3 separate regions of the Homo sapiens genome follow, and regions 2 and 3 are each linked to region 1. The links come from fine-mapping of genetic effects on gene expression. A gene starts in region 1. Each other region holds a variant in brackets. All regions are shown on one strand. Distances are between the middles of the regions. Region 1 holds the start of SLC12A8 (solute carrier family 12 member 8). Region 2 overlaps SLC12A8 (solute carrier family 12 member 8). Region 3 overlaps SLC12A8 (solute carrier family 12 member 8).

Region 1 (6,038 bases):
AATACAAAAATTAGCTGGACATGGTGGCAGGCGCCTGTAATCCCAGCTATTCGGGAGGCTGAAGCAGGAGAATCGTTGGAACCCAGGAGGCAGAGGTTGCAGTGAGCCGAGATCATGCCATTGCACTCCATCCAGAGCGACAGGGCGAGGCTCTGTCTCAAAAAAAAAAAAAAAAAAAAAACAAATGTTAGCCAGGCTGGTCTCAAACTCCTGACCTCAGGTGATCCGCCGGCCTCAGCCTCTCAAAGTGCTAGGATTATAGGCGTGAGCCACTGCACCCAGCCCAGAAACACCTAATTATTTCTAATGCCAGCTGTCATAGTATGGCTGTACCGTTTATCTAAGCAGTCTTCTGTTGATGGACATTTAGGTTGTTCTCATTGTTTAAAGTATTACAAAGTAATGATGCAACAAACATGCTTTTCCTAGTTCATGTAGGGCAGTATCTTCAAAATGGCAATGTTTAAAGGATATGCAGGATACTATCTCTCTCTCTCTCTTTTTTTTTTTTTTTTTTGACAGAGTCTTACTCTGTCGCCCAGGCTGGAGTGCAGTGGCATGATCTCAGCTCACTGCAACCTCTACCTCCCAGGTTCAAGCAATTCTCCTGTTTCAGCCTCCCGAATCACAGGTGCCTACCATCACACCTGGCTAAATTTGGTATTTTTAGTAGAGACAGTTTTTCACCATGTTGGCCAGGCTGGTCTCGAACTCCTGACCTCAGATGATCCACCTGCCTCAGCCTCCCAAAACTCTGGGATTACAGGTGCAAGCCACCTCGCCCAGCCAGGATACTATTTTTCAACATGAGGTTTTTTGTTTTTGTTTTTGTTTTTTTGTTTTTTTAAGGTTAGTGTTATTGTTATAAGAAAAATCTACATTAAGCAGGATATATATATATTTTTCTTTGCAAAGGGCAGGTTTCTGTAGCCTTAACATGAAGAAAATAAACAACTATATTTGTTTCTGGGTTTAGAAGATGCTTATAAGCTTTGAAGGGAACTTCTCATTTATTTAGAAAATGACGAGTGACAGGAAGTAGGTGGTTATAAAGCGAGAGGTGGATTCCCCATTCTAAAGTTTTTAACTCAGGCTGATATGGAATTGAATGCAGATTCTTCAAAATTCATGTTGACACTTAGAGGGAGACTCATCGGAAGGTGACAGCAAACAGGAAACCAGCTTGAGGCAAAAAAAAAAAAAAAAGAGCAGTGTCATGTATGACCCACCAAAAGTGAATAAGAAAAATGACTCTGCTGATCATTCTGATGAATCTGTGGAAATACAGTCAGCCCTTCATATCTGTGGATTTGACCAAGGCAGGTCAAAAATATTTGGTTAAAAAAAAAAGCATGGTTGCAGCTGTACTGAGCATGTACAAAGTTTTCTTCTTGTCATTATTCCCTAAACAATACAGTATAACAACAATTTACATAGTTTTTTTTTTTTGTTTGATTGTTTGTTTGTTTTTTTTTTAAGACAGGATCTCACTCTGTCACTCAGGCTTTAATGTAGTGGTATGATCATGGCTCACTAGAGCCTCAACCTCCTGGGCTCAGGCAATCCTCCCACCTCAGCCTCCCAAGTAGGTGGGACTACAGGCATGCACCACCATGCCCAGCTAATTTTTAAAATTTCTTTTGTGGGGAAAAGAATAGGCTCTCACCGTGTTGCCCAAGCTGGTCTTGAATTCCTGGGCTCACGTGATCCTCTCACCTTGGCCTGGAGATTTGGAATTTTTGTAATTCCAAAGTGCTGGAATTACAGGTGTGAGCTACTGTGCCTGGCCTTGAATTAGGTATTATACGTAATCTGGAGATGACTTAAAGTATGTGGGAGGATGTGTGTAGGTTAAATGCAAATACTACATCACTTTATATCAGGGACTTAAGCATCTACGCATTTTGGTATTGGTCAGGGGGCCTGGAACTAATTTCCTGCAGATGCCAAGCGGTGACTGCATAATGGATTCCAGTAACGTGACTGTGTCAGCCTGTCCGCCCATTCATCCTTTGTTCACAGATGGTTAATCTGTAACTTTTGGGGGGTCTTTTTTTCTGGCAGAGATGGGTTATTAAAAATTTCTTTGCTGGGAATGAAATTCTGACACATGCTACAACATGGATGAACCTTGAGGACATTATGCTGAGTGAAGTAAGCCAGACACAAAAGGACAAGTATTGTATGATTCTACTTACATGAAATACACAAAATAGGTAAATCCATAGAGACGGGAAGTAGATGAGGGGAGTTACCTCTGAGGGTAGACGAAACGGGGAGTTAGTACTTAGTGGGTACAGAGTGTCTATTGGGGACGATGAAAGTTTTGGAAATAGCGATGATGGTTGGACAATATTGTGTGTGATTAATACCACTGAACTGTACAGTTAAAATGGTAAAAATGGCAAATATGATGTTCTATATCTTCACACGCGTCTTTGCTGGAGCAGAAGCGAGAGGTTAGGTTCTGTCAGTGTTCCCATGGCTTAGCCTTCCCTTTTGTTTTTAGAAGAACAACCTCTATTTTTAGGGATTTTCACACAAAGGCTTGTGGGCGTGGGAAGTTCTCCCAGCTGCCCTCCTGTTTCTCAGAAGCCCACATGGAAGCCTCTCAAATTATTTAAGGTTTAGGAAATATGCCAGATTGGGAATGGAGATAATTTAATCTCTCTGTATGTTAATTTAGGGTTCTTTTTTTCTGCAACATGAGGCCCTGGAAACCTTACTTCACCCCTAGGAAAGGCAGTTCTGGGTCTTGGTGAAGGGGGTAAGGGTAATTCACCCCTACACAGCATGCCCAGAGCGCTTTCCTGGCAAAAGCAGTTCCACGCCCTCAGAGTCTGGGGTCACCTGATCACGCAGCCAGGCACACACGGAGACCCCCGGTACCGGGGTCTCGGTCAGCTTGTCCAGATTCTTCTCCACATCTGCCCAGGGGGCTGCGGGTTTCCCTGCACTCCGGGCTTATCCCGGGCTTTCTCAGTCCTGCGTGCAGTGCTCACAGCCACTCCTCAGAGCCGCACAGGGTAGGCTCCTGTCCCTAGTCCCCTGGTCCCGGGGCTGGGCATTTCCGCTGGTTGCACTGTCGAGGGGGGAGAGGCAGTGGCTGGTCACTTCGAGCCTGTGGGCTTGCGGCCCCTACTCCCTGTTTTCCCCCAGCCCTGCCCCTACCCAGGTGAATGTTCTTGTCCAGGTAGGCGCGAAGGCCCGACCCTTGCGGAGGGAAAGCCTCTGCAGCGCCTCCTCGCCACCTGGGCCCGAGACTCCCGGTGCTGGCGTGGCAGGGGTGCCCCCGCCGGGACGGGACAGCTGGGACCCGCGCAGCCGAGCCGGGGCAGCCACGTGGCGGCGGGGCGGGGACCGGGCGGGCCGGGCGCTGGGAGCTGGCTGTCCCAGGAGCAGGTGAGGGCGGAAGGGCTGTGGGGGGTGGAGAGGGTGGTCTCGGGACAGTTCCTCTCCCCGGCCCGCAGTTAGGAGCCAGGCCTGGGGTCACCTTTGCCCCCACCTCCCCGCCCAGGTGGATCCTCTCCTACCGCCGGTCACCCGCGCGCCGGCACACGGGCCTGGCCCCAGTACTTGGGGTGCGGGTCCGCGTCTGCGTGGGGTGCCAAGGGGCCCGGGTCCCAGCGTGGCCCAAACGTGAGGGTAGGGGCTCCGCGGAGGAGCCAGGTGAATGTGGGCGGAGGCCTGCGGGGCGGCCTGCGGAGGCCGCGGGGCGGCGGGAAGGGCGAGCGGAGGCCTGGGGTCCCTTGCTCTGTGCGGCGCGGGCAGCCGGGGACACCCGGGTGCTCTGGCTCCCTACCTGTCACCCGGCTTTTGGCAGGACTGCAGCCCACCAAGTCCCCCAGCCTTCCCAGCTTCCCACTGGGCTAACCCTCCTCTCCCAACCCCCCACTCAGTGCTCCGGGCGCCTTCCCTCCTCGCCAGCGCTGGCTGCTGTCCTTAGTCGCCTTCTTCCCAGGAAGATCAGCTCTAACCCTCCCCCTCGCTCTCTTCCTCCCCCTTCCTCCTTCTACCAAAGGGTCCTGAGCCCCGTCTACCTTGCAGCACTGTGCTGGGGAGAGGCGCCACACAGATCAAGGGGACAAACTCCCTCCTCCCCTCAAGGAAAGCCAGGTCCAGCGCGAAGGGGAGGGTGCCTGGGGGTGGGTTGAGGAGCTGCCCTAGTCCTGTCCAGCCTTTTCTCACTCACCCTCTTCAATCTCCTACCCTTCTCCGGCCCTGCTCCAGAAGGGCCCCAAAACAGCCTCCTCATGGCCCCTCTCCCCTCTGCTCAGGGCGCAGCTACATTCACTCACCACCTGCAGCCAGGTCTAGTGCGTCATGATGCCCTCCTCCTGGAGAGAGGGGTTCACGAGGCACTTGAGGGTGGGAGAGGAGTGTGACTCTGTGTCCTCAAGGGCTGGGCAGCAGGGCAGCTGGCTCTGACCCTCACGTATTTAAGGAGCTCAGGGAAGGAGAGAGCTGGGAGTGCCTGAGGTTCTAGGGCAGCAAGGTTTGAGCACAGGTGGGCACTGAAGGACCAGCGGGATCTACCTGGGTACCAAAAAGGTAACCCGGCCAAGTTTCCAGATGAGGTAGACAAGGTTTCTTCCTCAGCCAGGGCCTCGCCTGGTAGTTTGAACAATTCTAGTAGAGAGAAAGGATGGACAACAAGGGGAGAGGAGAGGAGAAGCCAGCCTGACCAAGGATGCTGTTACCTTCCAGAGCAGTCTCCCTGTCCAGATCACCAGGATCCCTGCTTGCTGGAGAATGACCCAGATGTCCCAGGTGCAGGAGCTCTTCCATGAGGCAGCCCAGCAGGTAGGCTCAGGATGTGCCAGGGTCTGTGATGGAGGCCTGTGAGCACGGGGATCCCCAGACAGTGGGCTGGATGCAAACATTACAGCGCACCCTTTAGATGTAATTAACTCCAAAGTCTATTTTGGTCATCCAGTTCAATGAGAAAATATTATAGCCAAAATATTATAGCCATTATTAACTGTTCATATACAGAAAACCTTTGGCATTATTTGTGGTGGATTTTGAATCCTGGGATCCCCCACAACTCCAAACTCCATCCTGAGAGGTCTTCCACAGACAGTCACAGTGAGGACTCAGATAATATGAACTCATTTTAATTCTGAATCAAACCAATGTAAGAAGGTAAATTTATTTCTGAAAAAACTCTTATGTTCTGAAGCCAAAAGGATTTCTGAATGCCCTGGTGTTTGCTATTTTTTTTTCTTCTTTTTTCTTTATCTTCTCCCTGCTGATCATTAGTTACATGCATTCTGTAGATATGGAATTGAAGTGGCTCTACCCAGAAATGGAGAGCTGATCCCTTAAGAAATAATAATAATAATAAACCATACTAAAGTGTTTATCCAGAAACTATGTGCACCCAGGGTCTTTGCCATCCATGATCACTCAACATGAAGTTTTCACCATCCCTTGGGTTTCTTTCCTGCTTCTAGAGAGTGGCAGGAGGGTTTCCCAGCCTTGTAACAGGGGGACAAGCCCCATCAGAGGGGAGAGAATCAACAATGAACAAGAAACCCAGACAGAAAATGTGAGGCCCAGGAATTCCCAAAGGAGAGACAAATAAGACATTCTGAGATCTCCCCTGTGATGGCATCTGTTCCTCTCTCCCCTGTTTAAAACCTTCAGTGTCTCCTCATGTGCACCACTCAGGGCTCAAACTCTTCAGCCTCAGCCCTATACAGTCTGACCCCACCTGAGTCTCAAGTCGAGTTCCCCACATCTTCTTCTTCCTGCCACACCTTCCAGCTGAACCACACCATTCCCCAGAGCTTATATCTTTCCCTTGATCTTTGCTGATGCTTCTTATCAACAATTTGTCACTGAAACCTTCACCCAAGTATTTAAGTGGTATTTAAGTATTTAAATTGGTATTTAAGTGGACAGTAAATTTTAGTTGATTGATCACATGAACAAACAACAGAAAACCACAATGCAAGTTAAATTGTCATAAGTGCCCTAAGAGAGAGTTGATTTCTAAAATGTGATGGATACAATGACCTCTGTGTTGCCTCCTT
Region 2 (6,038 bases), 93 kb after region 1:
GTGTGTACCACCATGCCCGGATAACTTTTTTATTTTATGAAGAGATGCTGTGTGGTCCAAGCTGGTCTCAAACTTGTGGCCTGAAGGGATCCTTCTTTTTTTTTTTTTTTTTTTTCCTGAGATGGATCTCTGTCACCCAGGCTGGAGTGAGTGGCATGATATCCGCTCACTGCAACTTCTACCTCCTGGGCTCAAGTGATCCTCCCACCACAGCCTCCCAAGTAGCTGGGATTATAGGTGTGCACCACCACACCTGGCTACTTTTTGCATTTTTAGTAGAGATGGAGTTTCACCATGTTAGTCAGGCTGGTCTCGAACTCCTGACCTCAGATGATCTGCCTGCCTCGGCCTCCCAAAATGCTGGGATTAAAGGTGTGAGCCATTACACCCAGCCTCAAGTGATCCTTCTGCCTTGGCCTCCCAAAGCGCTGGGATTACAGGCATGAACCACCACACCTGGCCCTTAAATCTGTTGCATTTTTAATTTTAATGATCATATTTTTAATTTCCAAAAGTTCTTTGTTGTTCTTGGATTTTTTTTCATAGCACCTTGTTTTATAGATAGAATATTCTTCTTGGATGTACCTGGAGCTACTAATTAGTGTTTTCTTCCAAATTCTCTCTGTATCCTGATTTATGTTTCTTCCAGCCTGGGTTGTTCTGTTTCTATTTATGCGTGTATTTGTTTATTTGTTGCTGGTTTTCATCACACATTGGGTGATCTTGGTTGTGGGCATGGATTTCCCCAGCTGTCGCATGGTTAGGTCTGTCTCCCTGCTGGGGCCCTACCTTGATGAGAAGTTTGTGAGTGCTGTTGATTCTTGAGCAGGGCTTTATTTGGGGTGCAAACGTCCAGCCCTGGTTTTCCTCAGTGTATTGAGATCTTGTAGAGAAGCATTCCGAGGCTTTCTTTCCTTCTCTTTTCCTCGGTATTATATTCTCCATTTTCTATGTTCTATGTTCCAGACATTCATGGGAACCTTTCATCTACTTAGGGTCCTCCTCCCAACTTCTCTTTGCTTATGGGAATTTATCTACTTTTCCCCTTTACTATGCTCTTAATAGGATCTTGGAGAGGAGGGAATGAGAGGAAAGAAAATGTGCCTAACAGGCCGTTAAAAACAAAAACAAAAACAACAACAACAAAACCTTAAAAGTTTTCACGTTTCAAAATGATCATTGTAGAAAATTGAGAAAATATAAACAGTCAAATAAAAATGACCTGTTCTTTTATCACCCAGAAATAACATTGTTAATGTTTTAAAACATGTTCCAGTTCCTTTTTCTATATATTTTTATAATAATGGGATCATACCATGTGTTCTGTTTTCTAATATGCGTCTTAAAACTAAGCAAAAGCTTCTAAACATCTTTCCATGTCACAACATATCCCTTACAATATTCTGAGACCTAGTATTTATTGAAAGCTATATCATCACTTATTTAACCAACCCTCTATTTTTAGACATTAGGTTGTTTCTAATTTCCACTATTCTAAACAAGCGTTTATAAACACGCTGGGCTAAATCTTCCCTCATAGCCTTGACTACCTACGATGGGTAAAGTCCTCATAGTGGAGTTGCTGGGTGACAGTATATGCACCCCATCCGCGGGCCAGCATTCAGGGTTCTCTCTGAAATACACCCCCCTACTTTCACTTTCTGGTTCCAAACTGTCACTTCACTGCACTTCGCTTGGATTCTGTGAAGCATTGTAGCAGAGGCATTAAGAGCATAATTTTCAGAGTCAGACAGACCAGGGTTGAATCTTAGCTTTGCTGCTTATTAAATGTGTGACCTTAGGCTGTTTTAATTAACCTCTTTGAACACTTTTCCATAAGATGAGGAAATAATTCTACCTTTCTGATGAGGTTGTTATGAGAATTAAACAGGATAAAAAAATGCATGTAAAGCACTTGACACAGGCCCAGGCAGTTTGAAAGTGTTCACAAATCATGGAGTTAGATTCATTCCCATCCCTAAGCCCATTCAAATCCCTCTTTCAAGGCCACATTCAAGATACAACCCCCTCCACGGGTCTTTCCTGACCAGGGCAGCCCATCACACTGAGTTGTTATGGCACTTGTGGGCTGGATCCTCATCCGATGTTCAGAACACCCTGTCTTGTTGCTTTCATATATTTGTTTGTATGGGAAGAGGCAACATCCCCACTTCACCATGCAGCACTGTGCTGTGGGTCCCTCATGGATTAATTCATTTTCATTAGTGTTCTTGCAGAAGAGAGGTGATGATGAAAAGGAGCTTGTGACTCCATGTCAGTGGCATCAGGATTGGTTTTTTTGGAGTTTATTTCAAGCCCTTTGGTAGCTCAGGGGCTTGGAGGATGGTACCTGACCCCGAGGACACAGGAAGCTCCCATGGAATCAGCAGGCAGCAGAGGCAGGGAAAGCTGCTGAGCAGGAGGCTGCCAGACCTTTGTAATGCTGAGCCTCTCCAGGGCATTGTCCCAGCTCAGCAGGCAGCGCAGGACCTCTGTGTGCCTTGCAAGCCGCTTTCCTCCCCCCTGGTTGCTTTGCGCTGAGCGGTAGGATGCTTTTGGAGCTGGGAGGGCTTTCCTCCTGAGCCTCCTCCAACCCACAAAGGTGCCTTTCACGCCACAGGGATGCCTCCCTAGTTGCCAGGGGAGATTGAAAAGCAGCCTATGCGCAGAGCTGCAGCTGGAGGGCTTGCGGTGGGACAGCTTCCAGGAGAGGGTCCCGCAGGAGAGGAAGGGGCAGCCCTGGGGAAGGCGATGCGTGGAGGAGGCTGCTCACCCCATTCCCCATCTGGGTGTCTTTCAGGAGTCATGGCCGGCTTCAACATGGGGGGCGACCTCAGGGAGCCTGCCGCCAGCATTCCCCTGGGCTCCCTGGCAGCTGTTGGCATCTCGTAAGTTCCCCTCATGGCAATCAGTCTGAGCTAGAGAGTGGGAGAGAAAACCCCAGGCAGAAGAGGGATTGCCCCTTTTGTTCTGAGAGTGCCCCGACTGTGACCAATCTATTTCATATTCCGATCCTTCTTTTAACACTCGGTGGGCTGGAAAATTCACGTCTGGTGGGTTCAGACACTGCCCTTTCATGCGCCCTGCCTGGGAATGCTGCCGAGGAGGAGTGTCGGGACCCAGATCACAGATCGAATCCTTTCTTTCCTTTCCTCGGCCTCCCGCCCCCGTCCCTCCCCCACCCCCATTTTGAACTTGGGGATTTTTTTAACCACCGAGTTTCCAGGATCACTGGAGGGAGCATAAAGATGAAGAGTTTTGCAATCAGACGAATTGGGGCTGCATCTCAGCTCTGCCGCTGATTGGCTGCATGACTCTGGACAATTTACTGAGTTCTCTGAGCCTCCATTTCCTTTCTTGTGAAATGGGGATAATGACACTGTATGTGCTTCCTAGATTGCGG[C/G]GGGGAGAGAAGGCACACAGTGGAAGCTCAGCACCCAGCTCTTCTTCTTCCCCCAGTGAGCCTCCCCTCCAGCTCCCCCAGGCCGTCAGGCCTCTGGGGTTTTAGTTCACACTGTGCCACCCACACAAGCAGGCTGGGTAACCTTGGGTCTATTTCTGACCTTTTAGAATATTGTTTCTCTCTGTACCACAGGAAGAAGCTTCTCTGCCCTTCATTGGGTAGGTGTGAAGAGGCAAAGAGATCAGAGACCAGAAACAATGACTTGAGAAGTTAAAAGGGCCTGTGTTATTCTAACCACAGTATTTAGAAAATATTAATGTATCTGTTTCACAAACACTGAATTTGTTCTTAGCTTACTGCAGTGAAACCATTGCTATCAGCCTGGCGTACAGCATCAGGGTATTTTGTGCAATAACATTGGGAAGAAAATGAAGACAACAGAGATAGAGTTGAGTGTTGGGAAGGAAATAAAAGAAAGAGGCTTCTGAATGAGGACCCTGTCTTGTTTCTGGCCCCAGCTGGGAGGTTCCAGGAGGAACCCTTGGCCCATCCTCTGATTACCCAGATGGGAATGAGGAGACCACAGGAACCTGGGTCTTGTTCAAGGTTACAGGGCATCTTGGGGACAGAGCCAGGCCTCTGCTCTCTGCCTTTTGACTTTAGTTTCCCTCTTTATTATCTGATCCAAAGATAACAGACCAGCAGGACTTAGAGGCCCGAAGGATCATCAGCTTGTTCTTTTGCTGGAGGAGGCTGGGGTGTGAGGCTGCGGGGCAACCCTGGCCTGAATCCTGGCAACCTAGAGGCAACTGGGCCTCCCACTTCCCTACTCGGAATGCCCTTTGTATGTTTTTCTTTTTTAATATAAGAAAGAGAAAAAAAACTGCTCACTTCAGCAGTACATACACTAAAATTAAAACAATACAGAGATTAGCATGGCCCATGTGCAAGGATGACATGCAAATTCGTGAAGTGTTCCATATTTTTATATATATTTAAAAGTAAAAAAAGAAACAAAACAATGGTACCCCTTTTTTGGTAAGAAATATGCCAGAAGAGAAATAGTACAAAAAGTGTCCTCCCAAGCCAGCTGGGGAAGCTTCATGACTGGCCTTTCTCTCATTCTGATACAAGTTCCCTTTGGAAACAGAAGGTTGAGTGAGGGAATTGGATGGGGCTGGGTGAGGTGAGTCGGGGGCAGCTCTGTTCTGCTCTTGGGTTTTGCAGGTGGTTTCTGTACATCATCTTCGTCTTCCTCCTGGGCGCCATCTGCACTCGAGAGGCCCTTCGCTATGACTTCCTGATAGCGGAAAAGGTGAGTGAGGCCTGCGCTACTCCAAGGGCTCAGTCTGCCGGAGTCATTTATTTGTTCTCACCAACAAATGGCCACCTTCCCCTTGCAGTACTGTCTGGGAATCCATATAGTCTTTTTAAAATTTAATTAATTTATTTTTTGAGACAGGGTCTCACTCTGTTGCCTAGGCTGGAGTGCAGTGTTGCAATCTCAGCCCACTGTAGCCTCAACCTTCCAGGCTCAAGCAATTCTCCTGTCTCAGACCGCCAGGTAGCTGGGACTACAGGGGCATGCCCTCATGCTGGGCTAATTTTTTTTTTAATTTTTTGGTAGAGATGAGGTCTCACCATGTTGCCCAGGCTGGTCTTAAACTCCTGGCCTCAAGTGATCCTCCCACCTTGACCTCCCAAAGTGCTGAGATTACAGGCGTGAGCCACCACGCCCAGCCTTCATATAGTCTCTAGCCCAGGACTGAAGTGTTGGGTTGTGGTGGGGAAGAGACATGATGGAAAAGGTACAGGCCCTGCTTAGGGATTTCTAGAAACAGATAATGATGCCCAGAGGGATTCACAAATATGAGGGGCTAGATAATGGGGACATCTCTTCCTGTCAAAAATCAGGACAGAAACAGAAGAATCTGCTCACCCCAAATTCCCAGTTAAGCAAGTGCCTCACTTTTGCTAATAGCTTCACCTTCCACAATGAATCAAATGTGCTGCTCAGAAGTGGCAAGTGGAGAAGGAGGCTGGACAGGCAGACGTGGAGGGAGCGGGCGGAAGCCCAGTGCCAGGGTGAGGGCCGAGGCCCTCCTTGTCCCTCAGGTCCTTGACCCCTTTGGCTTTCCTGAGAGTCTCAGACATTCTGGGTTGATTTGGCTGCAACATCTTTGTTTCTAGAGTCTGCACCCTGCCAGGAGAAGATTAATGAATTCCTGGCATTGGCTGGAGGTCATCTGACATCAAGGACATTTATTTGGCATCCTAGAAGCCACATGAATAAGATTTCCAGATATTTTTCTGGAAATCCCCAAAAACTCCCACCCTCCTTTAAGTTCTTGGAGAAAAAGTAGACCCTGAGATTCCCATCATTTTTCAGAGAAATGTAGTTGGTTAGGGAGTTTTTCTGTGAACTCCTGAGTATCACTGCTTATATTTTATGTATTTTAAATTTTAATATTTTAATTTTAACTTTTTAAAGACAGGGTCTCACTCTGTCACCCAGGCTAGAGTACAGTGACGTGAACATGGCTCATTACAGCCTCAACTTCCAGGGCTCAGGTGATTCTCCCACCTCAGCCTCCCAAGTAGCCAGGACTACAGACATGCACCACCACACCCAGCT
Region 3 (6,038 bases), 57 kb after region 1:
CTACTTGTTATCTTCAGTAGGTGTTACCTTATGGGCTGATACTTAATCACAGCAGTCAGAAACTGTGAATTTGCATGGTGACACCCTTCCAAAGTGACTGTAAGAGCCTTCCTCCCTGACTTTTGAGGATTTGCAAACAGCAGAGAAGCAAGTTTTTAGGTATCACTCCAGGGAAAATAGTGATTTCATGCTTGAAATATGTGGGAACAATATCTAAAGAAAAAGCTTAAGTTGTCTAAAGAGGATCTTATAATAGTTGGATACACTTATAATTAGAAAAGCCCACTGGGGGCCCAGGCACTGTGGCTCACACCTATAATCCCAGCACTTTGGGAGGCCGAGGTGGGCAGATCACTTGAGGTCAGGAGTTGGAGACCATCCTGGGCAACATGGTGAAACCCCGTCTCTACTAAAAATACAAAAATTAGCTGGGCGTGGTGGCACATGCCTGTAATTCCAGCTACTCGGGAGGCTGAGGCAGGAGAATTGCTTGAACCTGGGAGGCAGGAGCTGTAATGAGCCAAGATCGCGCCACTGCACTGCAGCCTGGGTGACAGAGCGAGACTCTGTCTCAAAAAAGAAAAAAAAAAAGGAAAAGCTAATTTGACATTGGGGCTTACTAGGAACAAATATAAGCAGAGAAATGGCCTACTTAGAAATGAAACCTTAGATTGAAACAAGAAAATGTATTTATTCCTGAAAAGATTTTCCACAGTGAGTTGTCAAGTTGTGTCTTGCTAACATTCGGTCCCTGATTCCTTCATTTCCGCCATCCTTCCTTGGCTCATGTGCCTCTTCATCTCTGTATTTCTTTGTCTCCTCCCCACCTAGATCTCCCTCTCTCCTCCACTCTAATCAGTTCACTGAAAAACTTTTCCTGAGTCCCACTATGTGCAGAACCAAAGCTAGAAATTGAGGATACACACAAGAATAAGGCACAGGCTCTCCCCTAACCAAACAATCACCATTTCCTGGGTCAGTATTTTAAAGGAAAATATGCAAGTTGCAGGTGGAGGAGAGTGGAAGAACCTTGACCTTGGGGTTTCTGAGATGTCTTCAAGGAGAGGGTGATGCGAGTGTACCCCAGAGGTCACACAAGTGTTCACCTGGTAGTAAACTGGGGATGGTGATCCCAAGGAACAGGAACAGCATATGTGAAGACTCAGCGCGCATGGAAGAGTTCAGAAAGTGCAGGAAGGTAGGTGTGCTGGAGCTGAGTGTGCTGGGACAGGGTTTGGGGACAGAGGGCCAGAAGGGTACAGAGCCTTTTCAGGTTCAAGAGAGAGTTCTTCCCAGTTCCCTGAGGTGATGGTGCTTCAAAGCGAGGAGGCAGAGGGAAGCTCAGGGAACTTTCAGCTTCTAGGGCTTCCAGGATTGGCTTGTATCACAGGTCTTGGTGAAAAGCAGAACAGTAGCTTGTCTCTGTTCAGATCACAGCCGTTATTTTTCACTTATGACAGGTTTATCGGAACATGGCCCCACTGAAAGTCAAGGAGCATCTGTATTTATAATTAGTGTATTTCCTTCCAGTATTCTTGCCTTGCATATTTGTATTCATATATGTGAGTAGATAGTACCTACTAAATTATAATTTTAACTTATTTTTATTAAGAACTATACATATTTAATTTAAAAATATATCTAAAAGCTATTTCCTTATAGCCTTTTTTTCATCCTTTTTCGTTTTAAAGCATAATTGAGCTCACATAGTATATAATATTTTTGAAGTTAAAACTAATGTAGCAACATTCAGAAGTCCCAGATGGAATGTACTATAAACAGAGGCTTGATGACATATCTTGAGAATTTTCTTAGTCTCTCTAGTTAGAAAAGCAAGCAAACAAACAAACAAAATAACCAGAAATAAGTTTAAAATTCAACATGCGTTTTAAAGATACGGAAATCATAAAAGCTGAGCAAAAGGTCAATAGGCTTTTCTTTGAAGCAGGGAAGGGGTTGAATCAGATTTGCTCTTTGGAGCCCTGCCTGGAGTTAGGGTAGGCACAAATGGGGAGGGACTGAGGCTGGGGCCCTTCAAACGTGGTTGCAATTGTCCAGTCTAGAGAAGACACAGCCTGGACTGATGCAGTCGAGGTGGGGTAGAGATGAAGACCAGATGCAGTTTGGGAGACAGTTTCGTGATCTCATTTTCTTGATTTGTTTGTACATGCCTCTTAATTGTTTCCATTCCCGCCCTTCTCATCCCACCTCTCATCCCATCTTTGGTCCACCACCGCCATCGGGAACATCCACATACTTGTTAAACACAAACAAAATTATTTTAACCAATGAGAACTTTGATTGATTTTTTGTCTCGTTAGTTTATAATCCAAAACAATGATGAAAACATTTAAAAGGGTCCAAGATCCTGCCATAAGTATTTACTTTTCTCGCGCCACTGGCTACATGAGTGGGTGCACACATAGACCCATGCATGATCACACACACTGATGGCCTGGCCCTGAGATACTGGAGACGAAGCAGCCGGCACCATGTCTGGCACATGAACTCAAACACTTCACTTCCTCTGGTGAACCTTGGCCAGCCCCATCCATGATTCAGTGACGAAATGCCTTCTCACTCTGAACTAAATTCATTTGCACGGTTTCTAGCGTGCTTTGTATTTTTAGTCCTTTTCCACACATGGCCTCTCCCATTGGATGGCACACTCCCTCATCACAGCACTACAGCTCAGCCACATGCCCCGTGAGAGCATGATGAGGCAGCCGGCTGGGGTCTCTGCCTGGCCCGGGGCCTGGATTATCTCTGTATGTGGCCACCATTTGCATGTGAAAATCACGTCTGGCTCACAAGTCTGTGACCCAAACAATAGTCTCTTTCACCCTGAGCATACGGTCTAGGGATGTGAAGGGAAATTTCCCTTGCTTCTCTGAGAATATGTGCCACTTTTCTGAAAAATTAAAAATAATTGGAGTTACGAAGTTGGGTTTTTTTTTTTTTTTTGGCAAGAGTAAGCAATAATGATTAAGAAAAGTGGTTCATCAACTGTTACCCTGCTCTTAGTCCTTTCAAACTTCCTTCTTTTTTTTTTTTTTTTTTTGAGACAGAGTCTCGCTGTGTCACCCAGGCTGGAGTGCAGTGGCGTGATCTTGGCTCACTGCAAGCTCCGCCTCCCAGGTTCATGCCATCCTCCTGTCTCAGCCTCCCGAGTAGCTGGGACTACAGCTACTTTTTTGTATTTTTAGTAGAGACAGGGTTTCACCGTGTTAGCCAGGATGGTCTCGATCTCCTGACCTTGTGATCCACCCGCCTCAGCCTTCCAAAGTGCTGGGATTACAGGCGTGAGCCACCGCGCCCGGCTCAAACTTATTTCTAATAAGCCATCAGAAAATTATGTCAGATGTCTACATCAATTCCTGCATCAGAATCTCACAGTGTCCTTATCAGACATTCTTTACCAAACAGCCTCGCCGAAATTAATACTTTTTGAAACACTGAGTATATTTCTGCTTGTAAGCAGAGAAGAAAGTAAGGTGGAATAATTTATTAAGATGAGAAAAAAGTCCTGGGTCAATTCACATTGCTGTACATTTCTTGAATTTAAGATTTGAAGGTGGTGCGGTGAGCAAGGGAAGTAACACAGTAGCTTCCACCCCGCCACCCACGGTTTCACTTTCCATGGTTTCCATTTCCCGTAGTCAACCACAGTCCGAAAATACTAAATGGAAAATACCAGAAACAAACAGTTCATACGTTTTAAATTGCC[C/T]GCCATTCTGAGTAGCATGATGAAATCTTGCACCGTCTCACCCGGGACATGAACCCTGCTTTGTCCAGTGTGGCCACACCGTACACACCGCCTGCCATCAGTCACTTAGTACCTGGCTTGGTTATCAGGTCAACTGTCAAGTAGCAGAGGGCTTGAGCTCGAGGCCAATAATAGCCAAGTGCTATGTCACGATGCCTGCATCATCCGCCTCACTTCTCGTCACGTAGGCGTTTTATCATCTTACATCATCACAAGAAGAAGGGTGCATACAGCATGGTAAGCTATTTTGAGAGAGAGACGTTCACATAACTTTTATTATAGTATATTGTTAGAGTTGTTCTATTTTATTATTAATTATTGTGGTTGATATCTTCTTGTGCCTAATTTATAAATTAAACTTTACCATAGGTATGCATATATAGGAAAAAACGTGGTGTATATAGGGTTAGGTACTATCCTTGGTTTCAGGCATCCCCTGGGGGTCATGGGATGTACCCCTAATGGATAAGGGAGGGGGGATACTGTAATAGCTAATGTTTATTGAGCATTCTGTTTGTGCCAGGTGCTATACTAAGCATTATACATCTCACTATATCCTATCTATGGAGTCCCTGTGTGTTATTGTCCCCATGATAAAGATGAGATAACTGATGTTCAGAGAGGTTAGATTGCCCAGCAGTTATCCAGCTGGTAAGCAATGGAGCCAGAATTTGAGCCCTGGCTTCTGACCTCAGGGTCCATGTCCTTAACCATCAAGCTCACATTGTTTCCAGCTGCTGGGGCCGCCTGCTCTTCACTGACTGAATTAGAAAACAAGCAGGACACATAAGTCCCATGTAGGGCATGGCATTGAAAATGCAGTTTGCGAAGCTGCTGACTAGTGAAGTGAAAGGGGACGGTAGTTAAAGTATTTTGCACTGGGAGACTTGAAGCCAGCATTCTCTCTACCACTGTCTGTGGGACCCTAGGCCAGCACCCCAATATCTGTGGGTCTTCAGTTTCCCCATAATAAAACTTGATTTTAAAATTCATCATCTGGCCGGGCATGGTGACTCATGCCTGCAGTCCCAGCACTTTGGGAGGCCAAGGTGGGTGGGTCACCTGAGGTCAGGAGTTCGAGACCAGCCTGGCCAACATGGTAAAACCCTGTCTCTACTAAAAATACAAAAATTAGCTGGGTGTGGTGTCACGCGCCTGTAACCCCAGCTAGTCCAGAGCTCAAGGCCAATAATAGCCAAGTGCTATGTCACGATGCCTGCGTCATCCGCCCCACATTGTCTCGTCACATAGGCATTTTATCATCTTACAGCATCACAAGATTCTCCTGGTGAGGCAGGAGAATCGCTTGAACCTGGGAGGTGGAGGTTGCAGTGAGCCAAGGTCACACCACTGCACTCCAGCCTGGATGAGACAGTGAGACTCCATCTCAAAAAATATATAAATAAATAAATAAATACATAAATTTCATTATCTCTTAGAAGTCAGTGGGCTGCCCAGCCAGGGGCAGAACTTAGTGCGACACTTGCCCAACTCCTCGTATTTGTCTTGTACTTCCCAGCATGGGAGATGTGTCCTAAATGAAGAAGCACAAGAACATGCTATTGAGAAGAGTCCCTCAATTGCGGCCATCCTTTGGTGTTTCTGAAAGTAACAAAACAAGGCATCAGATATAGCAGAAAGAAGCACTGGTGGTAGCTGAGAGAGTTTGATAGGCAGCTACAGAAAATCCCCATACCTTGGATGTTGATGGCACGCGGTGCTGAGTAGGAAATGCAGAGGTCATTGTTTTTCAGGCTGTAAAAACCTCAAGCACAGGAATCCCATATTATTGCCGTTTTATCCTGGCATCTTGGAAAGTACCGGGCACATGGTTGGCTCTCGGTTGCACTTTGCTGAGTGACTGACTGGGAAACACACCAGAGTGGATCAGCATCCAGTGAGGCAGATGGATGGACACAGTCCTAGGAAACGTAATCTGCGCAGCTTGTGAAAGTGTGATGAGAGTTGCAGGAGAATGGAGTTGATGGAACAGATTGTCAGAGCACTGTCTCCAAAGAAGAGGAGTGGCAGGGTGGACGGAGCGCCTGGCTGCACACACACCTGTTCCGCCTCCCTTTCTTTCTTCCTCCCATCCTCCCACCCTATAGGTAGTCATCAAAGCCTACGGGGTGCCAGGAGGTAGGCTTTGGGATACAGCGGAGAATAGGATAGCGATGGTCCCTGCCCTCATGAAACAGGGAATCCATGTCAGCAATATATGCTTTTCTGATTAATGCTATCAGAACACATGCTTCTTGTTAGCCGTGTGGCT

Evidence for each region.
Region 2: its variant is fine-mapped to the expression of SLC12A8 in testis (GTEx, PIP above 0.99). The same link has a PIP of 0.9 or more in thyroid.
Region 3: its variant is fine-mapped to the expression of SLC12A8 in whole blood (TOPMed, PIP above 0.99).

The regions. Positions count from the first base shown.
Region 1 is chr3:125,210,064-125,216,101 of GRCh38, reverse strand. It overlaps SLC12A8 (solute carrier family 12 member 8), which reads left to right and starts at 3,354. Exons shown (of 14, transcript NM_024628.6): 1 at 3,354-3,402; 2 at 4,708-4,803. The coding sequence starts at 4,753. RefSeq lists silencers at 3,273-3,422, 3,463-3,682, 3,693-3,742 and an enhancer at 3,634-4,233.
Region 2 is chr3:125,117,449-125,123,486 of GRCh38, reverse strand. It overlaps SLC12A8 (solute carrier family 12 member 8), which reads left to right. Exons shown (of 14, transcript NM_024628.6): 7 at 2,801-2,888; 8 at 4,631-4,718. It also overlaps the pseudogene RNU6-230P. Among named protein-coding and RNA genes, the nearest start is that of MIR5092, 31 kb to the left of the region's middle. RefSeq lists enhancers at 1,547-1,766, 1,972-2,477, 2,478-2,984, 2,987-3,036. The variant C/G (reference allele first, on the strand shown) is at 3,404.
Region 3 is chr3:125,152,774-125,158,811 of GRCh38, reverse strand. All of the region lies in intron 5 of SLC12A8 (solute carrier family 12 member 8), which reads left to right. Among named protein-coding and RNA genes, the nearest start is that of MIR5092, 4.2 kb to the right of the region's middle. RefSeq lists a silencer at 3,883-3,932 and an enhancer at 4,168-4,669. The variant C/T (reference allele first, on the strand shown) is at 3,728.